2 linked regions of the Homo sapiens genome follow. Each later gene encodes a partner of the first gene's protein in a complex. Each region holds a gene or a part of one and is shown on either strand. Other genes may lie near its edges. The genes, in order: BMPR1B and FKBP1A. A codon is read from its position in the direction of its gene.

Region 1 (15,596 bases):
CCAGAATCTCTGGGACACATTTAAAGCAGTGTGTAGAAGGAAATTCATAGCACTAAATGCCCACAAAAGAAAGCAGGAAAGATCTAAAACTGATACCCTAACATCACAATTAAAAGAACAAGAGAAGCAAGAGCAAACACATTCAAAAGCTAGCAGAAGGCAAGAAATAACTAAGATCAGAGCAGAACTGAAGGAGGTAGAGACACAAAAAACCCTTCAAAAAATCAATGAATCCAGGAGTTGGTGTTTTGAAAAGATCAACAAAATTGATAAGACTGCTAGAAAGACTAATAAAGAAGAAAAGAGAGAAGAATCAAATAGATGCAATAAAAAAATGATAAAGGGGATATCACCACCGATCCCACAGAAATACAAACTAACATCAGAGAATACTATAAACACCTCTACGCAAATAAACTAGAAAATAGAAGAAATGGATAAATTCCTCGACACATACACCCTCCCAAGACTAAACCAGGAAGAAGCTGAATCCCTGAATAGACTAATAACAGGCTCTGAAATTGAGGCAATAATTAATAGCCTACCAACGAAAAAAAGTCTAGGACCACATGGATTCATGGTTGAATTCTACCAGAGGTACAAAGAGGAGCTGGTACCATGCCTTCTGAAACTATTCCAATCAACAGAAAGAGAGGGAATCCTCCCTAACCCATTTTATGAGGCCAGCATCATCCTGATACCAAAGCCTGGCAGAGACACAACAAAAAAAGAGAATTTTAGACCCAATATCCCTGATGAACATCGATGCAAAAATCCTCAATAAAATACTGGCAAAACGAATCCAGCTGCACATCAAAAAGCTTATCCACCATGATCAAGTGGGCTTCATCCCTGGGATGCAAGGCTGGTTCAACATACACAAATCAATGAACATAATCAATAAATGTAGTCCGTCTGGTCCTGGACTTTTTTTGGTTGGTAGGCTATTAATTATTGCCTAGCAAAGACAAAAACCACATGATCATCTCAATAGATGCAGAAAAGGCCTTCAACAAAATTTAACAGCCCTCCATGCTAAAAACTCTCAAAAAACTAGTTATTGATGGGACGTATCTCAAAATAATAAGAGCTATTTATGACAAACCCATGGCCAATATCATACTGAATGGGCAAACACTGGAAGCACTCCCTTTGAAAACTGGCACTAGACAGGGATGCCCTCTCTCAGCACTCCTATTCGACATAGTGTTGGAAGTTCTGGCCAAAGCAATCCAGCAGGAGAAAGAAATAAAGGGTATTCAATTAGGAAAAGAGGAAGTTAAATTGTCCCTGTTTGCAGATGACATGATTGTATATCTAGAAAACCCCATCATCTCAGCCCAAAATCTCCTTAAGCTGATAAGAAACTTCAGCAAAGTCTCAGGATACAAAATCAATGTGCAAAAATCACAAGCATTCTTATACACAAATAACAGACAAACAGAGAGCCAAATCATGAGTGAACTCCCATTCACAATTGCTTCAAAGAGAATAAAATACCTAGGAATCCAATTTACAAGGGATGTGAAGGACCTCTTCAAGGAGAACTACAAACCACTGCTCAATGAAATAAAAGAGGACACAAACTAATAGAAGAACTTTCCATGCTCATGGATAGGAAGAATCAGTATCGTGAAAATGGCCATACTGCCCAAGGTAATTTATAGATTCAATGCCATCCCCATCAAGCTACCAATGACTTTCTTCACAGAATTGGAAAAAACTACTTTAAAGTTTATATGGAACCAAAAAAGAGCCCGCATTGCTAAGTCAATCCTAAGCCAAAAGAACAAAGCTGGAGGCATCACACTACCTGACTTCAAACTATACTACAAGGCTACAGTAACCAAAACAGCATGGTACTGGTACCAAAACAGAGATATAGACCAATGGAACAGAACAGAGGCCTCAGAAATAATACCACACATCTACAACTATCTGACCCTTGACAAACCTGAGAAAAACAAGAAATGGGGGAAGGATTCCCTATTTAATAAATGGGGCTGGGAAAACTGGCTAGCCATATGGAGAAAGCTGAAACTGGATCTCTTCCTTACACCTTATACAAAAATTAATTCAAGATGGATTAAAGATTTAAATGTGAGACCTAAAACCATAAAAACCACAGAAGAAAACCCAGGCATTACCATTCAGGACACAGGCATGGGCAAGGACTTCATGTCTAAAACACCAAAAGCAATGGCAACAAAAGCCAAAATTGACAAATGGGATCTAATTAAACTAAAGAGCTTCTGCACAGCAAAGAAACTACCATCAGAGTGAACAGGCAATCTACAGAATGGGAGAAAATCTTTGCAATCTACTCATCTGACAAAGGGCTAATCCAGAATCTACAAAGAACTCAAACAAATTTACAAGAAAAAAACAACCCCATCAAAAAGTGGGCGAAGGATATGAACAGACACTTCTCAAAAGAAGACATTTATGCAGCCAAAAGACACATGAAAAAATGCTCATCATCACTGGCCATCAGAGAAATGCAAATCAAAACCACAATGAGATGCCATCTCACACCAGTCAGAATGGTGATCATTAAAAAGTCAGGAAACAACAGGTGCTGGAGAGGATGTGGAGAAATAGGAACACTTTTACACTGTTTGTGGGGCTGTAAACTAGTTCAACCATTGTGGAAGACAGTGTGGTGATTCCTCAAGGATCTAGAACTAGAAATACATTTGACCCAGCCATCCCATTACTGAGTATATACCCAAAGGATTATAAATCATGCTGCTATAAAGACACATGCACACATTTACTGTGGCACTATTCACAATAGCAAAGACTGGGAACCAACCCAAATGTACATCGATGATAGACTGGATTAAGAAAATGTGGCACATATACACCATGGAATACTATGCAGCCATGAAAAAGGATGAGTTCATATTCTTTGTAGGGACATGGATGAAACTGGAAACCATCATTCTGAGCAAACTATCGCAAGGACAGAAAACCAAACATCGCATGTTCTCACTCATATGTGGGAATTGAACAATGAGAACACTTGGACACAGGGTGGGGAACATCACACACCAGGCCTGTCGTGGGGTGGAGGGGGGAGGGATAGCATTAGGAGATACACCTAATGTAAATGACAAGTTAATGGGTGCATCACACCAACATGGCACACGTATACATATGTAACAAACCTGCACGTTGTGCACGTGTACCCTAGAACTTAAAAGTATAATGAAAAAAAAAACAGCAGGTGGGCCAGGCATGGTGGCTCATGCCTATAATCCCAGCGTTTTGGGAGGCTGATGCAGGAAGATCACTTGAGTCCAGGAGTTTGAGGCCAGCCTGGCAACATAGTGAGATCCCATCTATTAAAAAAAAAAAAAATTAGCCAGGCATGGTGGCACATGCCTGAAGTTCCAATTACTCAGGAGGCTGAGGTGGGAGGACTGCTTGGGCCTCGAAGGTCAAGGCTGCAGTGAGTTGTGATGGTGCCACTGCACTCCAGTCTGGGTGACAGAGCCACTCTTTGTCTAAAAAATAAAAATAAAAAAAGGTGTCTCAAAGGAAGAAACTGTGAAGATCAGTAGTTGTGATCTAGATACAGAAGGGGATATGGGTGTTCGGGTAATGATAAAAGCATGTTATAAACACTTGATGGTATGAGAAGTGTGAAGTCTTCAGAATAAATCTTGCCAAAGGTAAGAAGTGTGGTGGAAATAGGGCAGAAGAATAGCCCAGGGTCAGAAAAGAAAAGAGTCCACTGCACCAAGGGACTCTAACTACATTTTAATACGAAGCCACAGGAAACTATGAAATTATTTTGATGCCCAAAATTAGGCTTCAAGAAAATAAATTCAGTGGCAGCATGTACAGAAGACTGGAAATAGGAGAGACAAAGAGAAAGTAACTCAAAATGCTTCACCCCAGAATCTAGAAAAATGGTATAGAAGGCCCACACTGGCCCAGTACAAATGGGAATATTGTGGAAAGAAAATTCATTCACTTGAGCAAACCAAAAGTTAGGGAACGAAAGATGATGTCAGATACCTAATATTAAGAATGGATCAGCCAAAACTGGGAACTAGGAAGGAAATGCAGATACAGCAGGAAATCTAGCAGTCGGAAAATATGTAAGAGGTAAAAAGAGAGCAGAGCCAGTGGAGAGAGAGAAAGGAGAAGTTGGAGTACAGAGATACACCAAGAAAACAGGAGAAAGAAAGGTTTGGACACTGTGGATAGGGTGATGGCAATAGAGAAGGCCTCTGGTGACCAAGCCCAGTGGTGTCTCTGAATACAGCAGTGTCCAAAGAGAATGGAACAGAAGCCAAATTACAAGACTATTAACAAATTGCTGGGTTTTCGAAGCAGATGATCTTTTGGAACTCTTGGGAGAAATTTAACAGGGTGAGAGAAGGAGAGAGAGGCTGGTAATTTAAGAAGCATTGTGGGATTTTTTTTTTTTATAGGAAGACTTGAAAAGGGTTGTAGGTCAGAGGAAAAAAAAATCAGAAGGGAGAAAGGATTTAATAATCTTTATTGGCAGGAGGTTCATATTTCTAACTTAAATCTATAGCCCAAATCATTTCCTCTTGCTTTGTTTTTAAAGATCAAGAACTTCAATTTCCCATCCTTTACATGGTGAAGACCTTCATATATTTGGGGTATGTTATTAAATCACACCTCAGCCTTCAGTTCTGGCCGAAAATACCAATCAATCAGTCTTTTTTTGTGAATTTTACTTTCCAAACTTTTAATAATCTCCATGACTTTTTCTTTGTGCTCCTCTCCATGTATTACAGAGTCTTACTTAGAAAAATCCACAAGATGATCCAACATTTATTAATGGCTAAGCCTAAACTGAGTTCTTTAAAAGGTAGTTATACGATGATTTCTCTACACCAGTGGTTTGCAAGCTCATTTTGTTTTGTTTTCCAAACAGAGAAACCATTTATTCGAATTAAATCATCTGTGAGACGGAAGGAGCCTCTCTGATTAAAGTAAGAGTAAGCAAAATAGAGTCCCAACTATCATCTCCCCTCCCTACTGTGAAGAAGCTACTGATGTAACCCAAGCAGCCCTAAGGGTCTGAAAACCACTGTTTTACAACATGCTCTGGTTTATGTGCACAGATGTTAAATTCACTGTTTCAGGTACAGGATAACAGTACTGAATAACAGCTGGGTTTTGTTTATTAGTTTCTAACATTTCTCCCAAAACATCTATGCAAGTTATCTTTCCTATACCATATAAAAATTGTCTTTATCCATATATAATCTGTAAATTTTCCCCAAAACTTTTTCCTACTTGCAAATGTTATGCAGAATTCTGACTACGTATTCCCAGGAATTAGCTACTTCTTTTCTATATAACTTAATGACAGCTGCAAACCTAATGTGAACAGTCTCTAAGCAATGTCTCTGATGAGCATAGAAACAATAGAACAGACCCAAATATGCTGTGTTGCTAATAAAATGTTTGGTGGTTCTCCCCGTCAAATGTCAAAATTAATGATATTCCTCTTCTACTAAATATCCTAGAAGCACTGCGCTACAAAATAAAAAGTAACAGAAAAGAGTCATAAAACATGTATTTGTTCACTTTGATACTAACCTAATAAATTTAACAGCCAGGCCCAGGTCAGCAATACAGCAAGTTCCATTTTTCTTCACCAGAATGTTTTTACTTTTCAGATCTCGATGGGCAATTGCTGGTTTGCCTTGAGTACTAAAGATTTCTGTGTGTAAATGACATAAGCCACTGACAGAAGAGTAGGCTAACTTCAGCATTGATTTAGCGTCTAGGGTGGTGGACTTCAGATAATCATAAAGGGAACCATTTTCATGATAGTCTGTGATTAGGTACAACTGGGTCCAGGACCCTGTCCCTTTGATATCTGCAGCAATGAAACCTAAAAGGAAAAAAGATGAAAAGGTTTAGTGTTTTCCAAATAGTATCAGGAATAATTCATATTCTCAAACATCATTCTTTGTCATAGATAATTTTTGTTTAGCATTTCATTCAATTTCCTGACTATGCCTATGATGGTATTAAATGACTAATACCAATAAGAAGCAATCAAAATTGTACAAGTAAGGCTAGGCACAGTGGCTCACACCTGTAATCCAAGCACATCGGGAGGCCATGGCGGGTGGATCACTTGAGGTCAGGAGTTCAAGACCACTCTGGTCAACATGGTGAAACCCCATCTCTACTAAAAATACAAAAATTAGCTGGGCATGGTGGCATGTGCCTGTGATCCCAACTACTCGGGAAGCTAAGCAGGAGAATTGCTTTAACCTGGGAAGCAGAGATTACCGTGAGCGGAGATCACACCATTGCACTCCAGCCTGGGTGACAGAGCGAGACTTTATCTCAAAAAAAAAAAAAAAAAAAAAAAAAGAAAAGAAAAGAAAAAGAAAAAAACCTGTAGGAGTAGAGAAAGATTAAGAGTTTACATCTGAAAATATGGTCCCTTCCTAATCAGTAGTTGATGTTTAAACTACTTTATGGTATTACAAACTACTATGGTATATAAACTACTTTATGGTATTATGGTTACACATAAGACATTGCAAAACAGGGTCTTGAATTCTTGAATTAAGGAATATACCCCACTGATTAGCTTACTCTCCTTCTACTTGAACGATCCAGACAGATCATTTCTAACTTGCGAAACAAAATCAATTCTCAATATAAACTATTGATATAAATAAACCCTGCAGATAAGATTCCTACAACTTTTCTCAACATTTAAACAAAAATAAGTTCCTTCAAATTCCTAAGAAACCCTAAGAAATTCTGGTTTTACACTCGCATTTCCTGTTTCTGAAGAAAAAATATTTGAGAGTATTCCATTTCCAGCCTACCACTTACTCACAGAAGTGCCTTAGTCATTCCTCCTGTGAGGTCTCCCATTAGAAACTTATGATGTTCTTGGGCCCATGCCAAGAAGAAAACTTCAATACATTTCGCAACGGGTCTAGACAGATGAGTTAACATGCAGATGTTAACAGAAAGACAGAGGAAAGCTAGGAAACCCTGAACATAGCTATGCAGACTTTTACTCACCCAAAATGTTTTCATGCCTCATCAACACTGTCTGATATATTTCTGTCTCTCTGAACCAGCTGGCTTCCTCTGTGGTGAAGAACACTTTCACAGCTACCTTTTCGCCACGCCACTTTCCCATCCAAACTTCCCCATAGCGACCTTTTCCAATCTGTTTCACCATCTGAATCTGCTTAGCTATAGTCCTTTGGACCTGTGAAATCCCAAAACACACTGTTAGTGTATTCACAGCGCTACAGATTTGTTTAATCTTTTTTTCTCCAGAGAAGAAACGATTACTGCATGTAAAATATATTTAGCTAGTATTTTTCTCTATATAGACAACTTATTTGTATTTATTTATTAATTTATGTTACACTCTTTTAAACATATTTGAGATTGAGTGTGGATTCTGAATGTTCAAAACACTGCTTCCAAATTATGAAATACTTTATTTTAGTATTATTATTTTCTCAGAGAAAAAACCTGAGTAGGCTCATAGTAATCAGCAGAGTAGAATACTTGCACTTCCCCGTTATAATGGACTACTACATACTCTGAAGAGACTCGTCACCATACACCTAATCATGTATAAATATAACAAAACAAAATTGTAATGCATTGTTAGGCACATACAGAAATAAAGGAAATCTATATGCAGGGAGGAAGAAAAAAGGGAGGGAGGGAGGAAGGAGGGAGGGAAGGAAGGAGTTGAGACCAGACCAGGGAACGATAAACCAAGCTGCCGTCTGGGCAAAGAACAATACCAGAACTGGAATCCAGAGTTTAAACTCTGACTCCTTTAAAACCAGAGGAACTGAACCTAGGGCTTCAGCATTAAGCAGAGAGCATCAAATGGTACTAAATTTGCTATGGGTTGGTAGCATGCCAAGGCTCCTCATTACAAATGCTCTCTCTTGAGGAAACCATTTGCAGAATACTTTTCATGCCGTGACTATGGCGGGATAATAGTACTTTGAAGGAACTCTTGCCACCATACAACTTGATCATGGGTATAACATAAGAAATAAACTGTAATGCACTCCTGGGCTCACAGGGAAATAAAGGAAATATCCAAGAATGGGGAGGAAAAAGGAGAACAAAAAAAAATGGAGGGAGAGAAGAAAGAAAGAGAATGAGAGAAGATTATAGAGAATGAATTCTTTAGAACAAAGAAACAGTCACTATAAATGAGAGTCAACAGAAACAACCCAAGTAGATTTAACCTCTTCAGATTACATACTGGAATTCTGAGATACAGAATGCCAAGTAACTCTAAATGAAATGAAAATTGAATAAAAAATAAGCAAGAAAAGATTAATGGAAATTACATTTTTGTAATGAGACAGTTAATTGTCACAATAAAAAATGCAAAACAGGTAGACAAACCAGCATATTAGAGAGAAAAGTTAATAAGAGAAAGTAACAAGTTGGAGATAATATTATTTACCAAGCTCTAAGAGAGCTCTGAACAATATTATAAAGAGTGGAGTACAGACAAAGAGAATGAAAATATGAGTTAAGTGGCATTAAATTTAAATGTCTCTTTATATATGATCTTCATCACATCTGTACTTACAGTAAAATATTTGAAGAACTCTGATATCAATGGTTCCAAGATTGAAAGGGCTAAGCATCTATTACAATTTATATAATTTAGAGGACATAAGGAATCTAGCGTATAACTCTTATAACACCTGATCAGCAAACTGGAACGTATTCTTTGTAGAGATATACTTTACACCAATTAAAAACTTAAAGTTTTTCTTTTTGTACTTTTAAGAGCCATGCAATTACATTGGGCCACCCCAGATAATCCAGAATGATCTCATCTTATCGTCAGCAACCTTTGCTCACCTTTGTCATAGAACATAAAATTCTAGGGATTAGGTCTGGGCACGGTGGCTCATGCCTGTAATCCCAGCACTTTGGGAGGCTGTGGAGGGAGGATCCCTTGAGTCCAGGAGTTCAAGACCAGCCTGGGCAACATGGCAAAAACTCAGCTCTACAAATAATATGAAAATTAGCCAGGTGTGGTAGCACACACCCGTAGTGACAAGCTACTTGGGAGGCTGAGGTGGGAGGATCGCTTGAGCCTGGGAGGTCAAGGCTGTAATGAGACAAGATCGCACCACAACACTCCAGCCTAAGTGACAGAGTAAGACCTTGTCTTAAAAAAAAAAAAATCCTGGGGATTAGGGCATGAACATTTTGGGGGGACATTATATATTATATATTATTTATAATGAAGATTATAAATTTCGTAATTTATTAAAAAAGAACTGCTGATGTACCATGAAGCCACTGAAGCTTGATGGAAATAAGCAAGCAAGTTTATGTGTAATGCAGCCGTCCTCTCTTTAGGAGCCCTGTGCGCCATGAGACATCATGTTGAGTCCACTGTACTCCATTTCCAAACAAGGAAACAGGAGCAACATGGGCACCAGTTGGGAGCCAAATTCATACACAGGGAAATCACTCATTTGAGAGGAAACTTCCCACATTTATTAAAGAAAAATATTTAATTTACAGATCTTACAAAGCATTGCTCATGTAAGTCTATGGAGAATTTCCTAACATAAGCAGTTTTGCATCTGCTTTTTTTTCTAACGATAATACATTTTATAATTTAATTATAAGTTTTGACAGAATTGGCGATACTTGATAGAATAGGAACAACTTATCCCAAAGACAGAAAGTAAGCTATTATAACATGTAAGGACCTAAAAATATAACTTCAAAATTTTTTAACTGATTTATTTTAGTTTTTATTTGATTTAGCAAATGTTTCTGGTCCTTCTGTACCTAAACTTTAATTCTATATTACATTCTTAGATACCAACTTTTTAGATTGATTGTATAAATAAAATGCCTGTAAGATACAATGACTATAACTGTACTTTCAAAAAGATCACTATATTTCATGTACTCTGAGAATAACTGAATGTATAAGGAGTTATAAAGAATTATCACTATTCCAGGACTGTGAGAAGACATACACAGAACACACACACACACACACACACACACAGTCTTAATTCTTACAACAGCCCTACGATATTATTTCCTTTTAAAGTAGGAAAAAATTGACATTTTATGAAAAAGAAAAGATGCAAAATTAAAGGGCACGTATAAAGTCATTTGTTAAACACAAGGTCCAAGTATGTGGTTATATATAAGGCACTAATTTGCCCATTATGTTATTAAAATTAATAACAAATCAATGTTAAGATGAGGTATTCACTCACATATCAATATATGGAGAGAGAACTGTATACCTCTGCATTGTTTATCTTAATAACCAAATCTTAAAACCAGAAAATAAATCTGTAATAGAGACTTTTTCTTTATTGAACTGAGTTTTATAGAACCCTCCTTCCCATCCTACCGCCATCAAATGCACTTTCTTGTTTTATTTAACCAACATTTAGTTCACATCTCACTAATGTTAAGAGCACAGATCATCTGGGTTTGAATCCTGGCTTCTCCACGTACTAGCTAGCTGACCTATCTGGGCCTGTATCCCCTGATGTGTAATACAGGGTTATACTGATATTTCTGGTACTACCTTATAGGGTTGCTATGAGGACTAAATGAGAATTTGATTTAGTTTTAAAGGCCAATGTCTGGCCAGGATTGGAACCCAGACAATTTGGCTTGAGAATATATGCTTTTAATCATTATATGATGTGAGCCAAATATTATTTTTTGGTATCTGGATTATAGAAACAAGACAGTATTTTTATAGCTATTAAAAGTAGGAGCTGAAAGCTTTTTAAAAACAAATTATTGAACAGCGCCTATAATAAATCAGCCACTCTACTGGGGATAGAAAGTGAGCAAAATGTAACCTCTACCCCAAAGAGGACAGACTCCACCAAAAGACACAAGAACATTACCACTAATTATAACATTATTTTAAATGGCCATTATTAGTGCTAAAAATAAAATGTTATCACAGAAGATAAATAGACTGGCTTAGTCTGGGGTAACTGAGAAGTTGTCACAGAGGTAAAACATGAGGTAGGCCTTGAGCCATGAGTTGGAGTGATGTCCAGTAAAGAGATTACATTTGCAATGACGTGGATATATGTTGTATTTGAGAAACAATTACTCAAAGGTGATGCTAGAGCCCAGGCAGCATACTGGGAAGAGGTGGGAGGAGACGTCAGGAAGGCAGGTTGAGTTTATGTGCCACACATACCAAGCTGGGAAAGAAGACCTGCAAGCAGTATTGGGTATTAGGATATTTTACCCAGGACATAACAGTGCAAGATCAATGGTTTTGGAGAAAGAACTCCACAGTAATGGGAAAGATGAGTTTGAAGGCAAGAAACACTGGAAGAACTCAGTTTAAATTCCAAGAGCATCTAATTCATTAATACCAAAAGGGATTTTACTATTTGTACATCTCTTTTAGAAAAAAATAAGTGTAATACTATTGATTTTCAAATTGTATTTGCTCATATATTCTCTTCAAGGTTGGCAGTGCTGACCATCAGAAAATGAAGCTTCTCCTGAATGGAAAAGCCAGAACTTTACCCTGAAACATAAACCCCACAGCTGAAAAGCAACCCTCTTTCTTTGTAGAAATACTGAGAAGCCAGTTGGTTGTAATACTTTAGCCTTCAAAAGCCAGGCCAAAGTGCGGTAATGCTATCCTTATGGAAAACACAGGGAAGATGGTCCCGTGTTTAATGTTTTCTAATCTGCTCTTCATCAGAATGTCTGAGGGTCTGGATTGTAACCATACACCTACATTAAAAAACAATCACCTTACTCTCAATATGTCAAAATGTTATCAGGAAGCCCTGCAGCTGAGATCGGATGTCCAACAGACTGCATAGAGCTTTCTCCTTGTCCAGTGCCCTATTTCAGTAAGTGAAACCCCATATTCATTGACAGTTCTTTCAGAAAACATTTCCTTTAAATTCAAGATGTGTTCTTCTCATACCAGCAGAGGGAGGCCTGATCCACTTCCTGAGCTCTGAGACTGCTCAATTAAGTCTCTCAGGGATTCTCCAGGAGGAATGTAAGTTTCATCCTGTTCTAACCCAATGCTGTATCGAGGTCTGGTTTCTTGTCTTTTATACCTAAAGATGGATAGATGAAGATAATTTTAGATAATGAAATGCAATGATGGAGTAAAATATTGCAACTAAAATGGTAATCACAGCAGTTTTATTTTAGCACCTAAATATAATACATTAAATGCTTCATATTTTTTACTCTTAGTTATGGTTTCCCAAGTAAAACTCATTACTGTTTGGCTAACCTATTTTTTAAAATAAACTAAATAAACTACATATTTTTACTCAGTCTCAAGCATCTACAATTTTTCTTCTTTTATTTATTTCAAATTGCACATATCCAAGCAGACTACATTCTACTAGTGTTTCTAAATAGCTCCAATATTATTCCTTAAAATCTTTTCTAAGGTCCCTAATTAATTAAAGATGTAAATTTTGGGTGTACAAAAATCATTATAGCTAACTCTCTTATATAAGGTCATATCTAAAGAAATAATATAAATTTAATCTTTAAAAACTTTTTGTCAATACTTAAGTTTTCAATTAGAAATGAATTTATTTGAATCAATTAATCTGACCATTTGCAGAGTATCTCAAATGAGTAATAAATTAATCAAAAGGCAAATGACATAAATATCAAGGTCCTTAATATTTCACAATCTAGAACATAAGTTCATAGGCCATTAAAAAAATAGGAATTACCGAATTTAATATAATAAAGGACCTTATTTTAATGATTAATCTATAAATTATGTTTAAAATCTTTTAATAATCAGAAACGTTATAGCTTAGAAAATAAGGAATTTGAGCAACTCTTAAGTTCAACATGGCCATTTCTCTGCTTGGAATCAAACCTAAGTAACAACCAGTCTCTGAAGTCTCTAACTACCCTAGTTTCCCTAGGGATAAAATATTTATATGGGTAGTTTTGAAGTCTGAAGCAGAAATGAGATAGGTATCTATTTGTAACTTCATTAGGACAAATATTTATCAACAGTAACAGACATTTTCAGTTAACTATAAGATCTAATTAAGATAAATAAAGCTGTGGTGAGAAACACTAACAGGCAAAAGCAGAATATTAGTAAAAAGAAGACACTATAAATTAAAAATTTTGCATCTACATGTTAGAAACTTACCGGAAGTAACAAAATAATATGATAAGGACCAAGAGCAAACTACAGACAGTCACAGATATAAGTAAAGCCCTGTGGTGTATAGGTCCATCAACAAAATCTGAAATTAAAAAGAAAAAGAGCCATAATCAAGAGAATATTTTTACTTAAAAATAAGAAAGTAACTCTTTCCTAAAGGTACTTGCTAAGTATCACGCACAAAATGTGAAAGATCCTTTTCACATACCAATTAATTTTTTAAAAACCCATATATACTCAAAATTAAATAAGTTTGACTAGCGTGAATCATCCTTCACCTAGGCACTTAATCAAGAGCACACATTTCTTCCTGTCTGGAAGGAACAGGCTCGACACAGGATAAAACTACAGAAAGAACATCAACAAAGCTAAGTGGGTCTGTGCACCCACAATAGAAACAGGTAGTTCATCTTTATTACAGACGCAGCTCATGGGTTCATAGGCTCTTCTCATGTGGTCTCTGGAGTACTCTATACCATGAATTTGAATAAAAAAGCATCTATATAATTCATGGGACATAAAACATAACTCGTTGTATATAAAGTCATCTTATAGTGGATAAAAAGGAAGTGGACCCCTCAAATGTTGCCAAATAGAGAATATATGGTTGTGCGTTGTTTTAAACAAAAATGTGTTCAAAATCCATACTTTTTCTTAAACTGAATCATATTTTAAAAGAATGTATATGTTCCAGCCAAAGAATGTATGATACTTTTATACAACAAATTATTAAACACTACTCATTTTAACTCTAGTTCTTGACAAATCAGATTCCTCAAATTTTATATAAATGACTTAACTTTATACAATGTATATTCACTGACTTTAACCCCAAAGATTTCCATTCAAAGTACTTTATTTTTAATAATCATCCCAGGTAAATTTTACACGGGTGATTTCTGGGACATATTTTGAGGAAACTGACTTAAAACCAGGTGCACTTATATAGTAATACCATTAGTACCATTCTTATTAAAGGCACCATTTACCTTTGAGAGAGTGATTACTGTCATTTAATTTTAAAAGGTAGTATTGTAATTTATGACTTTGGATGCTATGGACAAGACGTTTTCCAACTGTACTATATACCTTTAACTATATGGCCACCTAAATATTTTGGCTGGGAATGTTCTTCCACTCAATGTAACTTTTTTTACTCAGAAGTATTATATGTTACATGAAGAAAAACTGAAAAGGATCAACTAACCAAAATAAAATAAAATCACTACCTCTTCAACACTCAGGAAAAATTACTGCTAACAGTATCATTTCAATAAAAATGTTCATAAGCAAAATATAATATATACTGATTTATAACTAGGTTGTTCTCATTTATAATACTGTGAACATTTTCCAGAACAACAAATATTTTTTTCTGCAACAGGATTTTTATATTGACACATAATTATAATATTTTAATACATACATAATGAACAGTGATCAGACAGCATATCCATCATCTCAAACACTTATCATTTCTTTGTGTTGGGAACATTCAGTGTCCTCCCACCTATTTGAAATTATTTATTATTGCAACATGACTTTTTTTTTTTTTTGATACAGGATCTTCCTCTGTGGCCGAGGCTGGAGTGCAGTGGCACAATCTCAGCTTACTGCAACCTCTGCCTTCTGGGTTCAAGCGATTCTGTGCCTCAGCACCCTGAGTAGTTGAGATCACAGGTACGAGCCACCACGCCCCACTTATTTTTGTATGCTTAGCAGAGATGGCTTTTTGCCACGTTGGCCCGGCTGGTCTCAAACTCCTGGCCTCAAGCGATCCTCGGTCTCCCAAAGTGCTGGGATTACAGGCGTGAACCACTGTGCCCAGCTACAACCTGACTTTTAAAGACTAAACTGTATTATACATAAAATCATCCTAATTAGAAAGTGAATCTTCTGTCATACATTCAGGAGATTCTAAAGATTCTGCCATAAGGCTTCTTTGTTATACACAATTCTGTAATAAACACTCTTACACATACATCTTTGCACATGCTAATGATTATTTCCTTAATAAGATTCCCAGAAGTAGGTGTGTTAGTTCATAAGATATATATTTTAAGTCTTTTCATACATATTGTCAAATATTCTTTTTAAAAGGTAACAGTAATTTCTATTTTACCATCAATGTGAACAAAGATTTTAATTATTTTGAAATAATTTCACCCTTACAGAAAAAAAATAAGAAAAAAGAATTCCAATGTGCCCTTCACCTAGATTTCTCATTGTTAACATTTCATCATTTTAAAAATAATTATCTTGCCTTCTCAATGCCTCTCTCTCTCAATATTTATGTATAATATGCATACATACATTTGCATTCAAATTTTTTATTTGTTTACTTATTTGTGTGTCTGTATTATTTTTGGATCATTTAAAGTTTTAG
Region 2 (15,596 bases), on another chromosome or scaffold:
TGGCGCGCGGCGGCTCGGAGTACCTCTGCCGCCGCGCGCATCGGCTCAGCATGCCCGTCTCTGTCTCCTCAGGGCGCACCTTCCCCAAGCGCGGCCAGACCTGCGTGGTGCACTACACCGGTGAGTCGGGGGCCCAGCGGGGAGGGGGCCCGGGCCGCAGTCCGCAGCCCGGGTGCGGCTGGCCGTCGAGGCCTGGGGGCCCGGGGCCTGGGGTCCGGGGCGTGGCGGCGGCGAGGTCCGCATGGCCCGAGGCTGAGGCCTGGGCGGTGGCTCAGGGGCAGCCTGGGGCTTGCGGAACCCGGGCGGGTCTGAATCGGCGGCTGTGAGCGTCGGCTGCGGGCTAGGTGTTATCTGACCCGTCAGAAGCATTTCTGCACCTTAGATGCTGCCCTTATGCCCGCTGCACAGATGAGGAAACTGAGGCTTGGCGAGGCGAAGTCACTTTCCCAAGGTCTCACTTTCCCAAGGTCACACTTTCAGGAATGGGCAGAGCTCTGGCCAGGGACCATTAGGAAGGATTTGTACCATTTCTGTGCCCCTGCCCCCACTTCCATCCCTCCCTTCACTGGAGATGAGGACGAGGTAATTCCGAGTCTGCAGAGCTGCTGCTTCCTCCGGGGAACTCGGAATTCGCCCCTTTGCCTAGGGTGGGGAAACATCCCACTTCCTAAGTCATTGCTTTGGCCCTTCCTGGCCTTGGGGGAAGTAGAGCTGCACGGCCTTCTTCCGTCTTTTTACTTTTGAGCCACTTACAAATCCAAGGCTCAGTGACAGCGCTGGCTCAGGCTGACCGAAAGCTGCACGTGTAATTTAGTCCCCCAGCTCTTCTAGAAGTAGAGACTTTTCTCGTCCTCATTTTAAAGATAAGCATCTGGAGGCTAATACATAGTGATAATACAAGCCAAAGGAAATTTTAGACACCTCCCCCTCCCCAGCCAGAATTCAGACATCAGAGTCGTGTGCCTTGGGGCTGTCTTACTCCTTCTCCTTACAAGCTTGTCCTGGTTTGTATGGGGGCGGGGGAGGGGGAGAGCTGAGTTGGCGGAGACTCAGTGGCTGTGGGTCCCACAAGGGTGGCAGTGATTGGTGTAGCCACAGTTGTTGATACGAATAACCTTCCCTCCCCCTCCTCCTTCCCCTTTCTCAACCTTCCCACCCTTTCCTCTGTTCCCCCTCCTCCTCCCTCTTTTTTTCCCACTCCCTCTCCTCCTCTTCCTCCTCCTGGGTAGTAGGCTGTGGGCAGTTCTGGCCAAGTTGCTCACGAATAAGCTCCACCTTTCTCTTCCAAATCATGGAAACATGGAGGGATCCCTCTATTGAGGGAAATGACTTTCACTGGAAAGAGGAAAAGGCAACTAACATCCCCCCTCCCATGCCCTTTTATTTCTGTGGCCCTTCCCCGTGGGTAGAAATGGGGGCAGGAGGTAGAAGTTAAGGACTAGAACTTTAAAAATTCTGCCAAAGGAGGAGTTACTGAAACCCATCTTTCTGGGGAGCAGGCAGTCTCATGTCCGTGAAGGAAGCTGGAAAGTGCTTTTGATGTTTTAGATAGCTGTCCTTGTAGGCCACAGTCAGCACCTGAGCCTGGGAGGTCTGGTAGATGAAAGCGCATCCTTTTGGTGATTTGTCATCGGAAGGATGAGGAGAGTAACCATTTACAGTGCTGGGGTGAGTGGGCAGTTCATTCAGTTCCGCAGCCAACTGGGGCAAAGATTGGGACTCAAGCCGTGAGGAGCTGCCTTCTGCCGCACCCCCTCCCCACCCTAGCTTGTACATAGCCACACTAGGGTGCTTGGCAGCATGTGTCCCACTCCCACGTCTGCCCCTCATGCTCGCCCATGTTCTGGTGCTGCCAACAGGACTGGACCCCAGCATGTAGGCAGTGCCGCACTTCACCATGTCTCTTTGTGAAATATCCCCACACAGCATGTCTGGAGCCTTTTCCTATGAGAACAGATGGTCATGAGACCCAGAACACCATCAGGGTTTCCAGTGCCTCTTGAAGTGTGTGTTTTTCTCGCGGGTGGCACGCACCCACATGTTTCCAGAGCAGCAGCAGGACCCTGGCATGCATTAGGACAAAAGCTTTCTTTTTGATTTCGTTTTGATAAGCCCTATAAAGACGCCTTAGTGAGAAGCCAGCTCTGCCTCATGCTCACAGAATAGACTGTTTTCGAGCAGGCTGGTGGCTTTGTTCCCGTGGGTCTTTGTCACCAGCCTCCCAGGAATAACCTGTTTGAGACCTGTGGGGGCGTGAGAGGAGTGGGTAGGCACTGGGAGATCTCATCTGTAGCAGTTAAGGCTTTTAAGTCACTGGGAACAGAATCCATCTTGGGGGAACATGATCAGAAGGTGGAGGTTATAAAGGTTCCAGGGGTTTTCAAAGGCAGAAGCCCACTGGGTCCTAAGAAGGGAAAAGAAATAATCATGATGCCTCTAGTTCTCATCTCTGTTTTTTGGTTGTTGTTTTGTGTTTTGTTTTGTTTCCTGCCTGACTGCCTCAGTAGTCTCCTGTTAGAGATTTGTGTTTGTCTGCTTCTCCCAACTGGTGGGTGGTGGAAGTCCCCTGCATGCTCCCCCGTCCCCCCTCCCCCCTCCCCCCTCCCCATGGCCAGCTTCTCTGTCTTCTTTTGAGTATCTGGCTCAGATTTCTTGGCTGTGATTCTGATTGTTACTTCTCTGAGAAGGAGAGTTTGAGTAAGGTGAACACTCTTGATCCAGTCAGCTCTTGCCAGGTGTCCACTCAGCTGATTTGGGCACGGGTCCAGAGAAAGAGGGGTGGAAGTAAGGTGGCCAAAATCTCCCCTTAGCCATCACAGGTGTGCAGAGCACAGACTGACCTTTACCACATGGATGCTTTAAATGCCACTAATGGCTGTCAGTCACCTTGATGTCACTCTCAAGGGTCCCTCTGGTGACTTCCGTGACCTTCTGGCAGAGCACAGCATGAGCAAGGCCTCAAAGGAATGCCTGCACTACCTCTGTGGTACCAGAGGGAAAATACAAAGTTCACTATCACCAGCTAAGCATCTCCTAGGAGCATGACAGGCATTGAGGTGGGAGGGAGGTGGTGGAAAGGTAAGCTGCCAAGTAAGTGCCTTTAGGAGCCAGGGAATTCTCATGGCGCCTCCCTGCTGCCTCCAGTAGCTTCGTCATCTTTACTGTTAGCTTGTCCTGGCACACAGCTAGGTTTAGACCTCTTTTACTTACTTCAGCAGGCCGTGTGCCTGCCATTGTGAGAGCAGCCCCAAGGGGATTGAAGGAATGTTTTCTTTTTTCTTCTTAAAAAGTAACTAACTGGACATTTTGTCCTTGGGATCAGGTTTAAGTCAGGTATAGCCTCCCGGTTTCTGACTGAGAAAAACCAGGAGCCCCTCAACCTCATGTCCTCAGGAGGTTGACTGGGAAGGCTGCTGAGGCTCCCGGGACAGGTGTGGCCACTTTGCTGCAGCCTCCCTCAAGCCCCTTGCTTTTCCTTAGCTTTGTTCCCCCCTCTCCTCTGCTTTATTCCATCCACTCCCTTGCTAGGTATCTCTTGGTTGGTGATCTGATGTCTGGAGGGAGGCTCACCCTCAGCAGAGATGCCTCAGATGGCTTCCCCTGACGTGTGCTGTCTTGAGGCACACAGGCTGTAACTGTTGGGCAGGGCTGCAACAAGTCCCTTTGCCTTCCCACAGCAGATGTTTTTTGAGCAACAGCAGCAAGCCAGGCTCTAGGGACATGGCTAGTGAACTAAATAGACAAAGACCTGATCTGGTGGGGCTTTGCTTATGATGAGGAGACTGATAGTATGGCCATGGAGCACATCAGGTAGTAAGAAGCGCTGGAGAGATTAAAGCAGAGTGAGGGATGGGAAGGGAAGTTGGCTGCTTTTCGTGAGGGTGATTGGAAAAGGCCTCTGAAAAAAATGGCATTTTAACATTCACTCAAAGGACATTGGAGAGGGAGCTACAGGGCTGTCTAGAGTATCCAGGCAGAGGGAAGAGCTAGTGCAGGACCCTGAGGCTGGAGCCTGCTCGGTGCATTAGAGGAACAGTAAGAAGACCGGTGCGTTAGAGGAACAGGAAGTGGATTGTGTGAAAGGGTATGTGGCAGGAGATGAGGGGATGGTGGAGCCTCGTTGGTTTTTATAAAAACGTTGCCTTTTTCTAACTCAGGTGAGAGCCACTGGCTGGCTTGGCTTTTAATGCCCGCCCCCGCCCCCCCAACCCACGCTCCTTCTGGCTACTGTGTGGACAATGGGCTTTTGGGGGCAAAGGCAGAAACAGGACACTGGTTGTATCCCAGGTGTGTGGAGTGCCAGCTCAGGCAGTGGGCAGAAGTGGTGCCAGGTGGACAGTGATCCCCAAAGAGCATGTGGGTTCTTCGCTGTGTTCTGATCTTGACCCTGCCATACAACGGGCTATGAGAGCTTGAACAAATTGTCCCACAGTTCCCAGCTTCCACATGCTGTCTATAAAATGGGAGTAACGATGCCTGCTGTGAAGCAAATGCCTATCGAGACTACCCAGTTGTCTCCAAAGTGTTGCTCTTTTTTAAAACCACAGTTCCATTGAGCCTCACTCATCGCAGTTGTTATGTCTGTAATCTCAGTCTAGAAGAGTCCTTACGCTGTTTTTTTCTTAATAACTCTGATTTCTTCAAAGAGAGCAGGCTAGTTATAGAATACTCCACATCTGTCTTACTGTTTTCTCATGGTATTGTTTAACTTGTTCCCTGCCTTGATTTTCTGAACCGGATGTTTAATCTTTTAAGTGTCTGAATAGATTCCGTTTAAACATTTTAGTGTGAGTACTTCATCCTCAGCACACATGGGAAACATCACTAGTTGTGATGCTAAATTTGATCTTTTCTGTAAAGGTACATTTTTCCCTTTGCATTTAGCAGTGATCTGTGGAGTGCTTAGGTAGCCATAGATGGTCTCTTGCTCATCAGCCTTTCACCTAGTGGTGTTTACACCATCTGATCATTCTCCCCTGAAGAAGTCACTGGCATTCACAAAGTGTTGATTTTTAAAATTCCTTCATTCTTTCTAAATTTATTAGCTGTTATCCTTCTATAAGATAAGGTAAAGTAATTCTTTACCTTTAAATACCAAATTTTATTTTTATTTTTTGAGACAGTGTCTCTGTCACTCAGGCTGGAGTGCAGTGGCTTGATCATGGCTCACTGTAGCCTCGACCTCCCAGACTCCCATCCCGGCCTCCCATCCGGCCTTCTGAATAGTTGGGCATACAGGTGCATGCCACCTGTCCTAATTTTTGTATTTTTTGTAGAGACGGGTTTCGCCAGGTTTCCCAGGCTAGTCTCAAACTCCTGGCCTCAAGTGATCCACCCTCCTTAGCCTCCCAAAGTGCTGGTAGTACAGGCATGAGCCACCGTGCCCAGCCTTTAATTACCAATTTTTAAAATGAAAAATGAATGTTAACTGATGGGGTATTGCCATTCCCAGTGGGGGCAAGTGACTTTTTCCCCCTCTATTTGCTTTGACTGTACTGTGGGCTGAAATTTTTTGTCAGGGCCTTAAGATCAATGATACCCATTATTCTTTTTGATGCTAATATCATCCTAAATTTGGCCAGTAGGAGCCCTTTAAGCTGGCTCCAGTACCTTTTTGACAGGCTCCCACCATTCCTTCATCCATTTCTCGGTTTCACTACTCTGGTCCAATTATCAGCCATCTTTCAAAGAGCTCTGGTTCCTTTCAGTGGGGTCCATGACCTTTTTTTTTCTTGGTAACAGCTTTATTGAATATAATTTACATACCATAAATTCACCTATTTACTCATAGATGTTTTAACTAGAACATTTTTAGGCTTAAACTGATTTTTATGAATTACTGAGGGGTTTATTGTATCCATAAACTGGAAATCATTTGTCTGCCTTGGAATTTTCTCTAAAAATATTGTCACCTGCTGTTTCCCATGGAAGAAGCCAAGGTTATGAATAACTTAATCACATAGCATTCAGTTCTCCCTTTGGTGCTCATGGTGACATTTGTTTATTTTTACTTCTATTTTTTCTTCTGTTTTTTTGTTTTCTTTTCCTGCTAAAAAGCTTAACCAAGTCTCTGCATTCCCTCCCCTGGACCCCTTTGATTTTGACCAGGTGTATTCTAGCAGTGCAGAAAGTCGGGGAGGTAGAAATAACCAGTTCTTAGATGCTACTGTCTCTTTCTGTTACATTTGCTCTTCCTCTCCCAGGAGCTCAAGCCACCTTGGCCTGCATTCATTCCTCGAATGCTCCAAGCCTTTTCCCACATGGAGGTCTCTGCCCCTTTGCTTAGGTGCCACCACACTGCCCCCACTCCCCACTGCATGACAGGCTCTTTTCTTTATAGCACAGCTTAAGTAACACTTTGGATGCATACATGCATGCTTCTAATTCTGCAACAATGCACCCATCTATTTTCTTAGCCCCCATCATAGTCAGGATCCGTGTAGTTAAACATCTGCTCTTTCCCCAACCGACTGAAGGCTCCAGGAGGCCAGACCCACACTAGTGTTGTTCTCCAAGGTCTCCCCATCAGTCTTGGCATAGAGTAGCTATTCAGTGACTGTTTGAATGAGTGGCCAGTTAGGACCTGGCATTCCCTCGGTCACTCAGTGAATATATAAGGAGCTGGGCAAAGCCTCAATGTTGCCCTCAAGAAGCTTACCCTGTAGGGAGTGGTCAGTTACAATGAAAGTACCTCAGGCAACCTACACCTATAGGCTAGAACTTCTTGGAGGAAGTGCCATTTGGTCTTGGGTGTGTATGGTGCAGTCAGGCAGGAGGAAAGCGTCTTCCAGGTATATACACAGGCCAGGAGGAGAAAAGGGTACCTTTGATATTTCTGTAAGTACTTGATGAATGTCTGCTATGTACAAGACACTGTCCTGGCTACCAAGAATTTAGGAGTGAAGAAGACACAGTTCCTGCCTTCATCTCACACTGTAGTGGAAAAGACATAATAAATATGATTAATAAGCAAGACTGTTGTGTATAAGCTAGTAAGTGTTAAGGAGGGAATAGGAAAAGGTTGAGGTTTTAGATAGATTGGCAAAGGCCTCAATGAGAAAGTGACATTTGAGCAAAGACTTGAAGGAGGTAAGGATGTAACCTATGTGACTGTTTGAGCAAGATCATTTTAGGCAGAGAGAACAGCAAATGCAAAGGCCCACGGGTGGAGGTATCCCTGGTGTGTATGTAGAACATAAGGAAACAATGTTCTGGGACTGGAAAAGTACAAGAGTAATCAGAGGTGAAGTCAGAGGGATGGTGGTAGGGGCGGAGGCTTGACACTTCTTAGAGGGTCTTGTAGGCCATTTTAAGAGTTTTATCTCCTGAGATGGGGGAGTCACAGGAGTTTTTCAGCCGAGGGGTAGTAGGGTCTGGCTGCTGTGTCAGGTTTAGACTGTAGGAGAGCAAGAGCAGAAGCAGGGAGACCAGGGAGGGAGTTGTAATAATAGTCTGTAACAGAGGTCCAGAACTCATGCCTTTAACCATTATACCCTATAGAAAATGCATATTTCTACCACTTCCAGCTAGCTATTGTTAAGTGGTATTTCTTTTGATTTTTTTGGAGATGGAGTCTCACTCTGTCGCCCAGGCTGGAGTGCCCTGGTGCAATCTCGGCTCACTGCAACCTCTGCCTCCCGGGTTCAAGCAGTTCTCCTGCCTCAGCCTCCCAAGTAGCTGGGACTACAGGCGCACGCCACCATGCCCGGCTGATTTTTTGTATTTTAGTAGATACAGGGTTTCACCATGTTGCCCAGGCTGGTCTCAAACTCCGAAGCTCAGGCAGTCCACCTGCCTCAGCCTCCCAAAGTGCTAGGATTACAGGCGTGAGCCACTGCACCCGGCCTAGTGGTATTTCTTTCTCCCCCTCCCCATGCGATATAATGTGGTAGTAACTCCTCTTATTTATACTGTGATTAAAGTGGAAAATGGAGAGACACACCCACAGGGCATGCATTCTGGTCTGTGTTCTTTTTATTGCCGTTGGATCCTGCATATTCTTCCCATCATGGGCCCTGCCTTTGAAAATACACTTTTGGTTATAGGATCTAAAGGGATTTAGCCAAAGGTTAGAAGCATTTCCATACTGCGTATGGGAAATGTGCTTGCACTGTTGGTGATCTCAGGAAAATGATAGTGAGAGTGAGCTGGTTCCCTCTTTGGGTTGGCACTTGGACCTTTGGTCATACCCCTCACTCATAAGGAGTTCTCAGAACCCCACTTCAGGGAGGTTGTGCTGGAATACAGCCACAGAGACCCAGAAATGGAATAATAAGAATGTAAGATTTGAATTTGTATCTTTTGCCTATCTAAATGTAGAATCCCTTTTTACCCATCATGATTGAGACAAGTGGGTAGTTGGTATGCTAACATAAAAGTGACATGGCTTCTGTAAACATTTGATTTCAAACTCTAACATAAATCATTTGCTAAAGGACTATGTCTTTATCTTTGAGGATGGCTCTGCTAGTGGAGTTTCCCATCATAGTTCTTGCAAAAACCAATTTGACCTTTTTTAAAGTAGAGCAAAGAGTATTGTGAGAACATTTAAAAACCAAACCTTTCCAGATTTTTAAGATTTCTTTCTCTAAATGTAGTCTCCCATATGATTATTCACTAGCAATAGTTTTTTAGTGACTTGCCTTTATTGAGTCTTTCCCAGGAGTCAGCTAGAACCGCTGTTTGTATTCACACTCATTTTATTGATTTACATACTATTTAATTACATTATATTTACACAGTAAATATAGCTACCATAAATGGATTTGGGGACAAACACAGCTAACCACTCCTCCCTTTGTGAACACAGAACTCATATGGGAATGAAGAAGTGATCATGAGCTAGAGACTAAAGCATGAGGGGAGTGCTCTTCACTATGCTGGGGTACGAAGGCTGTGAGTTTTATGAGTCTCCAAGTAAGGCAGCTGAGTAAAAGGTGGTTAAGAGAACTTCTGTGTCTAATAAGAAGAGGGAAAGCAAACAGCTAAACCATTAGACCTTGAGCCATACGCCCATCTGGGAATGTTCTGAGTGGCTTCAAATGCAAAGCTGCAGAAAAATACTGGCTCCCCCTACCTCCACCCATTCAACCATTACACCTTTTTTTTTTTTTTTAAGAGACAGAGTCTCGTTCTGTTGCCCAGTCTGGAGTGTACTTGTGCGGTCATAGCTCACTGCAACCTCAAACCTCTGGGCTCAAGTGATCTCCCACTTGATCCACTCAAGTAGCTAGGACCATGTCTGGCTAAATTTTTTTTTTTTTTTTTTTAATTTTTTGCAGAAACAGGATTGGGGACATGAGTCTTGCTGTGTTGCCCAGGCTGGTTGCAAACTCATGCCAGTCTCAAACTCCTGGCCTCAAGTGATTCTCCTGCCTTGGCCTTCCAAAGCACTGGGATTACAGGCATGAGCCTCCTCCGCAGCTGGCCTCATTGTACTTTTTGTCATTAAGAAACTCACCTGCGTGTTGAAAGTAGAAATCCTTTTCCCTCTCCAAACTGTAAATGGCAAGGACTTTATTTTATTTTGAAGGTTTGGGGCTTAGGATATTCTGGTTTTTTGTTATGTTTGATTTTTGGTTTAGTTTAGTCATTTTTTTTTTTTTAATCTTAAAACTTCCCATATTTTGTCCCTGTAAAATGCTGCCTATAGGAAACACTCCTGCAAAGATTCATGAGCAACTATAAACTGCATTGTGAGTCATGAGCTTTCACTACAAGTAGTGAAGCCATAAGTCTGTAGAGGTGCCTTCTTCAGTCCTGTTACCCAGTAGAAGGTATATGGCACTCTGCCCTTCCCCAAAGCAGAGTGCCTTGGAAGTGACTCCATTTCTATTGGGTTATTAGTGAAATAGTATCCCAGTGGTCCTTGTGAATCTCCAGGTCCTGGTCTTGAGTCTTAACCACCGCTTCAGTGGCTTGAGCCAACCACCAGGAACACAGTCTGGGGATACTTTGCTGCCCAGGAGCTGCTGGCCAGGTCTCCCTCTGCTGATTCCTTGAAAAGCAACAGGAAAGAGCAGGCTGCTGTGGAGTAGACAGACTTGAGACTCTCTGCACCGTCTTGTTTTGTAAACCCTTTTGCTCCCTTTCCAAGGATTTCAGTTCAGGAGGAGACCCAGGCGAAGATGACGTCAACAGCCTCTGCATGCAGTCAGTCATAGCTTTGGCTTCTTTCATGGTCTTGTGCTTTTAACTGGAGCACATTTTCACATTTTTCTTACTGATTAGTAACTAAAGGTGCTTAAAGTAAAGTTTACCATTCTGGGATTACCCCTCATATTCTTGTTACCATATAGGGAAGAAGGTCTAAATATGAAGGCCTCATGCTTGTCCTTCTGGTTCTTAAAAATCATGCAAGTAAAGCAAATCCAAGAGTGCTCTTGAGTACCAGCACCATACGTGCCACCAGGACACAGAACGCAGGCCAGGTCTGTGAGCTTGGGCTGCATTCAGTCAGGAGAGCCAAGACTAAATACTTAAAATAAGAATATGGAGCTATTCCAGGCAGTTTGTTAGGCATGAGTTATAGGCTTGTACGGCCAGGAATGAAATTGGTCAGTTCTGCAATTAGAAGGCAATGCTTGTGATGTTTTATGCTGAGTGGCCTTTAGAGCTTAAAGACTGTCAGCTGTCTTGTCTGCACTGTAACCTCAGTTGCCTTCTCTGAGCAGGGCACGCTTTCTTTAGGAAATTATGGCACTAACTTGGCAGGTGGTTTCACTGTTCAAGGGCTCCAGCTCCTGGCACAAGTGATCTCCAGAGTTAAAATTGGAGCAGCTGCTGAGACTTGACTTGCTGCCTGCTTTACCTGTTCCCTCCCCAAAGAGAGGAAGCACTTTTCATTCATTGCCAGTGTGTATGTGGGAGCTAAACATATATAGCATTTTAGTAAATGCCACTGCCTACTCTTTTTCTTTTCCTTTTTTAAAAAAGTTACTGAGGCGTGATTGAAATCCAATATACTGCACATTTTAAAAATGTACAGCTTCATAAATTTTGATGTGTCATTGTTTCCCTTTGAATTCACCCCTCCTTACCCTCCTCTAACAACTACTGATATGCTTTTTTGTCAGTGTAGATTTGTTGCATTTTCTAAAGTTTTATATAAATGGAATCATACAGTACGTTCTCTTATGTCTGCCTTCTTTCACTTGGTATAATTATTTTGAGATTCATCTGTATTGTCCCATGTATCAATTGTTTGTTCCTTTTTGTTGCTAAATATTTTTCTATATATAGAAACATGTATTTACCAACTTACCCGTTGGTGGATGTTTGGGTTAGTTTATAGTTTTTGACTATCGCTAATAAATCTGCTTTGAACATTTGTGTACAAGTTTTTCTGTGGACATAGCCTGTCATTTCTCTTGGATAAATACTCAAGATCAGAATGGCTGGGTCATATGGGAGGTGTATGTTTAACTTAACTATCAAGCTGTTTTCTGAAGCTTTATGTTATATTCCCACTAGCAGTGTATGAGAATACCAGTTCCTTCACATCCTCACTAACACCTGACGTGGTCAGTCTTTTTAGCTTTACTCATTCTAATCAGTGGTGGTAGATGCGTTTCCTAGTGGTTTTAATTTGCGTTGTTATAATAACTAGGAATGTTTAGCATCTTTTCATATGCTTACCTGCCCTCTGTCTTTTTCAATGAAGTATCTGTTCAAATCTTTAGCCCTTTTTTATTGGTTTTCTTAATTGTTGAATTTTGGTTTGTTATATTCTGGATATAAGTCCTCTATCAGATATGTACTTTGCAAAAGTTTTCTCCCAGTGTATGGTTTGTCTTTCATTTTCTTAACAGTGCTTTTTAAAGTACTGAATTTATTTTGATGAAGTTCAATTTATTCTTTTATAGATAGTGCTTTTTGACATCATACTAAGAAATCTTCACCCAACTCGAGGTCACAAAGATTTCTTTCCTATGTTTTCTTCTATAAATTTGATAGGTTTAGTACTTAACATTTAGGTCTAGGATCCATTTTGAGTTAATGCTTGATAATGGTGTGAAGTTTTTACTGTGTTATGTGTGGATATTTTGTCATTTCAGCCCAATGTAATTTTCATCTCAGACATTGTAGTTTTCATCTCTGAAAGTTGGAGTCTTATGGTTCTCCTCTACTAATTCTAACATTTGTGTTAGTTCTGGGTTGCTTTCAATTGATTGATAAGTCTCCTCATTGTGGGTCCTGTTTTCTGCCTCTTTGCATGCCTGGTAATCTTTGGATGCCAGACATTGTGAATTTTGCCTTTTGGGGTGCTGGATATTTTTATTCCTATAAATTTTCCTGAGTTTTATACTGAGAAGCATTTAAGTTACCCGGAAACAGTTTGATGCTTGCGAGTCTTGCTTTTGTGATTTGTTAGGTAGGTCTAGAGCTCAGTTTAGGGCTGATTATTTCCTACTATAGGCAAGATCTTCCTGAGTATTCTGCCCAGTGCTTTGTCAATCATGAGCTTCTCCAGTTTGACCGGGGGGTAGTAAGCACTAATCCTAGCCCTGTGTGAGCACTGGATACTGTTCCTCTAAGCCTTTTGGATAGTTCTTTTCCTGGCCTTGAATAGTTTGCTCAGATACATGCACTGAGAGGGACTCTGCTGAATACTCAAAGAGGACCCTGCAGATCTCTGGGGATCTCTGTATAGCTCTCTCCTGCTGGTACTGTGTCCTATGGACTCTAGGTGCCTTGAGCTCCACTCCAGGTCCCTCTCCCTGGAAACTCCCAAGGATATAGGGCTGCCCTTGTTTCCCATGTCTCAGGATTTATTGTTCTTCATTACAGATGTCTGGTGTCCTACAAACCATCGTTGTAGCTATTTTGTCTAGGTGGTTTTTAGGTTTTAGTGGACTTTTTGTAGGGAGGAAGGGGTTGGTTGGTTGGTTGTTGGTTGTTTCATGAACAAATCTGATCCTTGTCCTCCACCGTGACCAGAAATGGAAGTTCTCACTATCTGTTTTGACATTACAGACTGAACAGCATAATTCCTACACATGCACACTCATTCCAGCTTAACAAACACTGCTTCCACCTTCTCCCCCAGGCTGACAACTTAGGGCCATAGATAAGTGGCCTGTTCCTCCCCACTGGGGAAGCCCTCCTTCTCCTTGTCCTGTAGCTTGTGCCAGTTGTGTGACACCCACTTAATCACATACCACCCCACCCATTTCGGGGGATTATTGTTTAGCTTTCGGACTCGATTATGGGAAATCCTCTCCTTGGACTCAAGGAACCCCAACATCACTGCCACCACCCAACCCTGCCCTGCGAAGATTTCTCCTTAGAAAGTAGATGAGATTGACAGTTGGTGACTGTGGTCTGAAATTCTGGAGCAAGTCTCATGCCCCTTTCCCAGGGACAACAGAGCATCCAAAATAGCATAGGAAAATTAAGATCCTAGGCAAAGGTCCTGTTTAAAGCTCCTTTACTTAGAAATCCTGCTTCCTGGCTTTTATGGTTTTAAGATACTAGGGAGAGGTTTGCCCCTCAGTGTCCAAGATAGGCTCAGGAGAGCTGGGGTTAGACAGGCATCCTCACATAGAGCCACTGAAGAACATACACATCTCCATGCTGGCTCAGCAGCAGCAGCAGCAGCAGATTCAGGCTGTGTCCTGCCTAGTGCTCCTAGCCTGGTACCAGTCAGATAGATAGTTGAAGTATCTCACCTCAGGCAAAGCAACATTGATACATTGATGCATGTAGTGTCTGGAGGTTGCTTGGCATTGCATTTGATCAGGAATAAAAAGGAAGTTTAGGGAGTCTGTCTCAGTACCCTGTGGCTTTCACTGCAATCAAAATACGATCTTGCACAGGTCAGAGCCGTGTTCAAGTTTGGCAAGAAATAAGGCTAATTTTTTATAGGTATACCGTACTTTCCAAATTGTGGGTTATGAACCATTAATGCATCATGAAATAAATGTAGTGGGTCACAATCAGCATTCTTTTTAAAAATGAGAAGTATATGCCATGTAGTAACTTACATGTAAATTTTGTTTATACACAGACAAAATGTGGGTGTGTACTGGGTCCTGACATGAGACACTGTTCCCATTGTCGCGGATCAGGGATAGTTCTTTGTGGTTTTAGTTGTTGAGTTCTGTTTCTTTGTTATTCCTTTCGTGGCAGCACTACATTGTAGCGTGCTCACTAAGTGTCAGAGGTTTACCTCACGCCAGTTGTGTTCATTTGGCTGCAGGTAACTGAAGACCCAACCTAAGGCAAAGCAGACTTCTTTATTTTTGTAAGACTTCATTAAGAGCAGTTTCAGATTCTCAGCAAAATTGAGAGGCATGTACAGAGATTTCCCATATATCCCCTGGTCCCACACATGCATAGCCTCCTGTTATCAACACCCCCCACTAGAATGGTACGTGTGTTGCAATTGACGAACCTGCATTGACACATCATGATCACCCAAAGTCCATAGTTTACATTAGGGTTCACTCTTGGTGGTGTACATTCTGTGCATTTGGACAAGTGTATAATGGCATGTATCCATTATATATAGTATCATACAGAACATTTTCACTGCCCTAAAAATTCTCTGTGCTCCATCTGTTCTTCCCTCCCTCTACCCCTGACTCCTGGCAATCACTGATCTGTTGACTGTCATCCTAGATTTACCTTCAAAGCACACTTTTAATCACCTCAGAACATGAGTCTTGAGGGAAGTGGTTTGGGGCTGATTCAGAGCACTGGAATGACCACCTTGTGGTACGCCTGGCCTTCTGATAGTCACAGGGTGACTGCCATGCTCCAGACATCTTATCCTCACACAGCATTCAACAGGGAGGGCAGGAACTTTCTTCCCGAGTCTTTGTTTTTCTTTTTACTAATGAGGTGGGACTTTCCTGGAAGATCCCAGTAGACTTCACAGCAGGTAAAGTAGTGCCCAAACTGACCCGTATAGGGGAAGGGCTTGGATTGATTCGAGTTCATCTGCTGGGCCAGGCTGTTGTTGCTGTCGTTGCTCCTGGGAAGTTGTTGTTTAATTAGGAAGGTGAGGGTGCCACACAGCCTTGCTTCCAGGTGGCCCCTCTGGGCATGTTTTTCTTAAAATAACAGACCAGAGAGAAGCTCTTTCTGGTTTTCAGTCTCCTTTGTGGCTCACAGGCCCTGCCACTCCGTGGTTCTGACCTTGGGTGGGTTACTGAGCCTTGGAGTCGGTTTCCTTATTTCTGTTACAAGCAGTCTCACGAGGGTGGATGGAAAGGCTCCCTGCCTGGCCAGGGAATGGAGAATCATAGCTGTTCATTGCCTGCTCTCACCCTTACCTCTGAGGTTGGTTGGGTTGGGTTCCATGTAAGAAGTGCAGCTTGAAGTGGGCTAAAGGCAGTGTGTTTATTGGGTATTGTGGAGCCTGGAGACCTGTTTTTCTCCCAGGTACTCATTTATAGAGAACTGTTCAAGTCCTGCCATTAGTCATTTCTTTCATCAGGTGGTGACTGCATTCTGGTAAACGAATGAGCTAAATGCATACCCCAGCTCACCAGTTCTGGGGCACCAGTTCCTTGGAGCAGGTACCGGTCCCCACCCTCCTGTCTACCTCTTAGTCCTCAGCTCCCAGCTCCAGGCTTCAGGCAGCATTGGTA

Evidence for each region.
Region 2: the proteins of BMPR1B (region 1) and FKBP1A are in contact, whole or in part, in a crystal structure (PDB 3MDY), measured with the Homo sapiens proteins. Residues at the interface, in NP_001194.1 of Homo sapiens: Leu179 (codon at 12,031), Gln182 (codon at 12,022), Ser183 (codon at 12,019), Ser186 (codon at 12,010), Pro193 (codon at 11,989), Leu194 (codon at 11,986), Leu195 (codon at 11,983), Val196 (codon at 7,240), Gln197 (codon at 7,237), Arg198 (codon at 7,234), Thr199 (codon at 7,231), Lys202 (codon at 7,222), Gln203 (codon at 7,219), Glu238 (codon at 7,114), Trp241 (codon at 7,105), Phe242 (codon at 7,102), Thr245 (codon at 7,093), Glu246 (codon at 7,090), Gln249 (codon at 7,081), Ala264 (codon at 5,876), Ile266 (codon at 5,870); in NP_000792.1 of Homo sapiens: Tyr27, Phe37, Asp38, Asp42, Arg43, Lys45, Phe47, Lys53, Gln54, Glu55, Val56, Trp60, Tyr83, Thr86, Gly87, His88, Pro89, Gly90, Ile91, Ile92, Phe100.

The regions. Positions count from the first base shown.
Region 1 is NC_000004.12:95,121,506-95,137,101, reverse strand, and holds part of BMPR1B (bone morphogenetic protein receptor type-1B isoform b precursor), read right to left. Parts: intron 13,293-15,596; coding exon 13,196-13,292; intron 12,120-13,195; coding exon 11,981-12,119; intron 7,241-11,980; coding exon 7,048-7,240; intron 5,888-7,047; coding exon 5,590-5,887; intron 1-5,589. UniProt on the Homo sapiens protein: On ligand binding, forms a receptor complex consisting of two type II and two type I transmembrane serine/threonine kinases.
Region 2 is NC_000020.11:1,377,358-1,392,953, reverse strand, and holds part of FKBP1A (peptidyl-prolyl cis-trans isomerase FKBP1A), read left to right. Parts: exon of another isoform or gene 1-54; intron 55-72; coding exon 73-120; intron 121-14,218; exon of another isoform or gene 14,219-15,596. UniProt on the Homo sapiens protein: Keeps in an inactive conformation TGFBR1, the TGF-beta type I serine/threonine kinase receptor, preventing TGF-beta receptor activation in absence of ligand.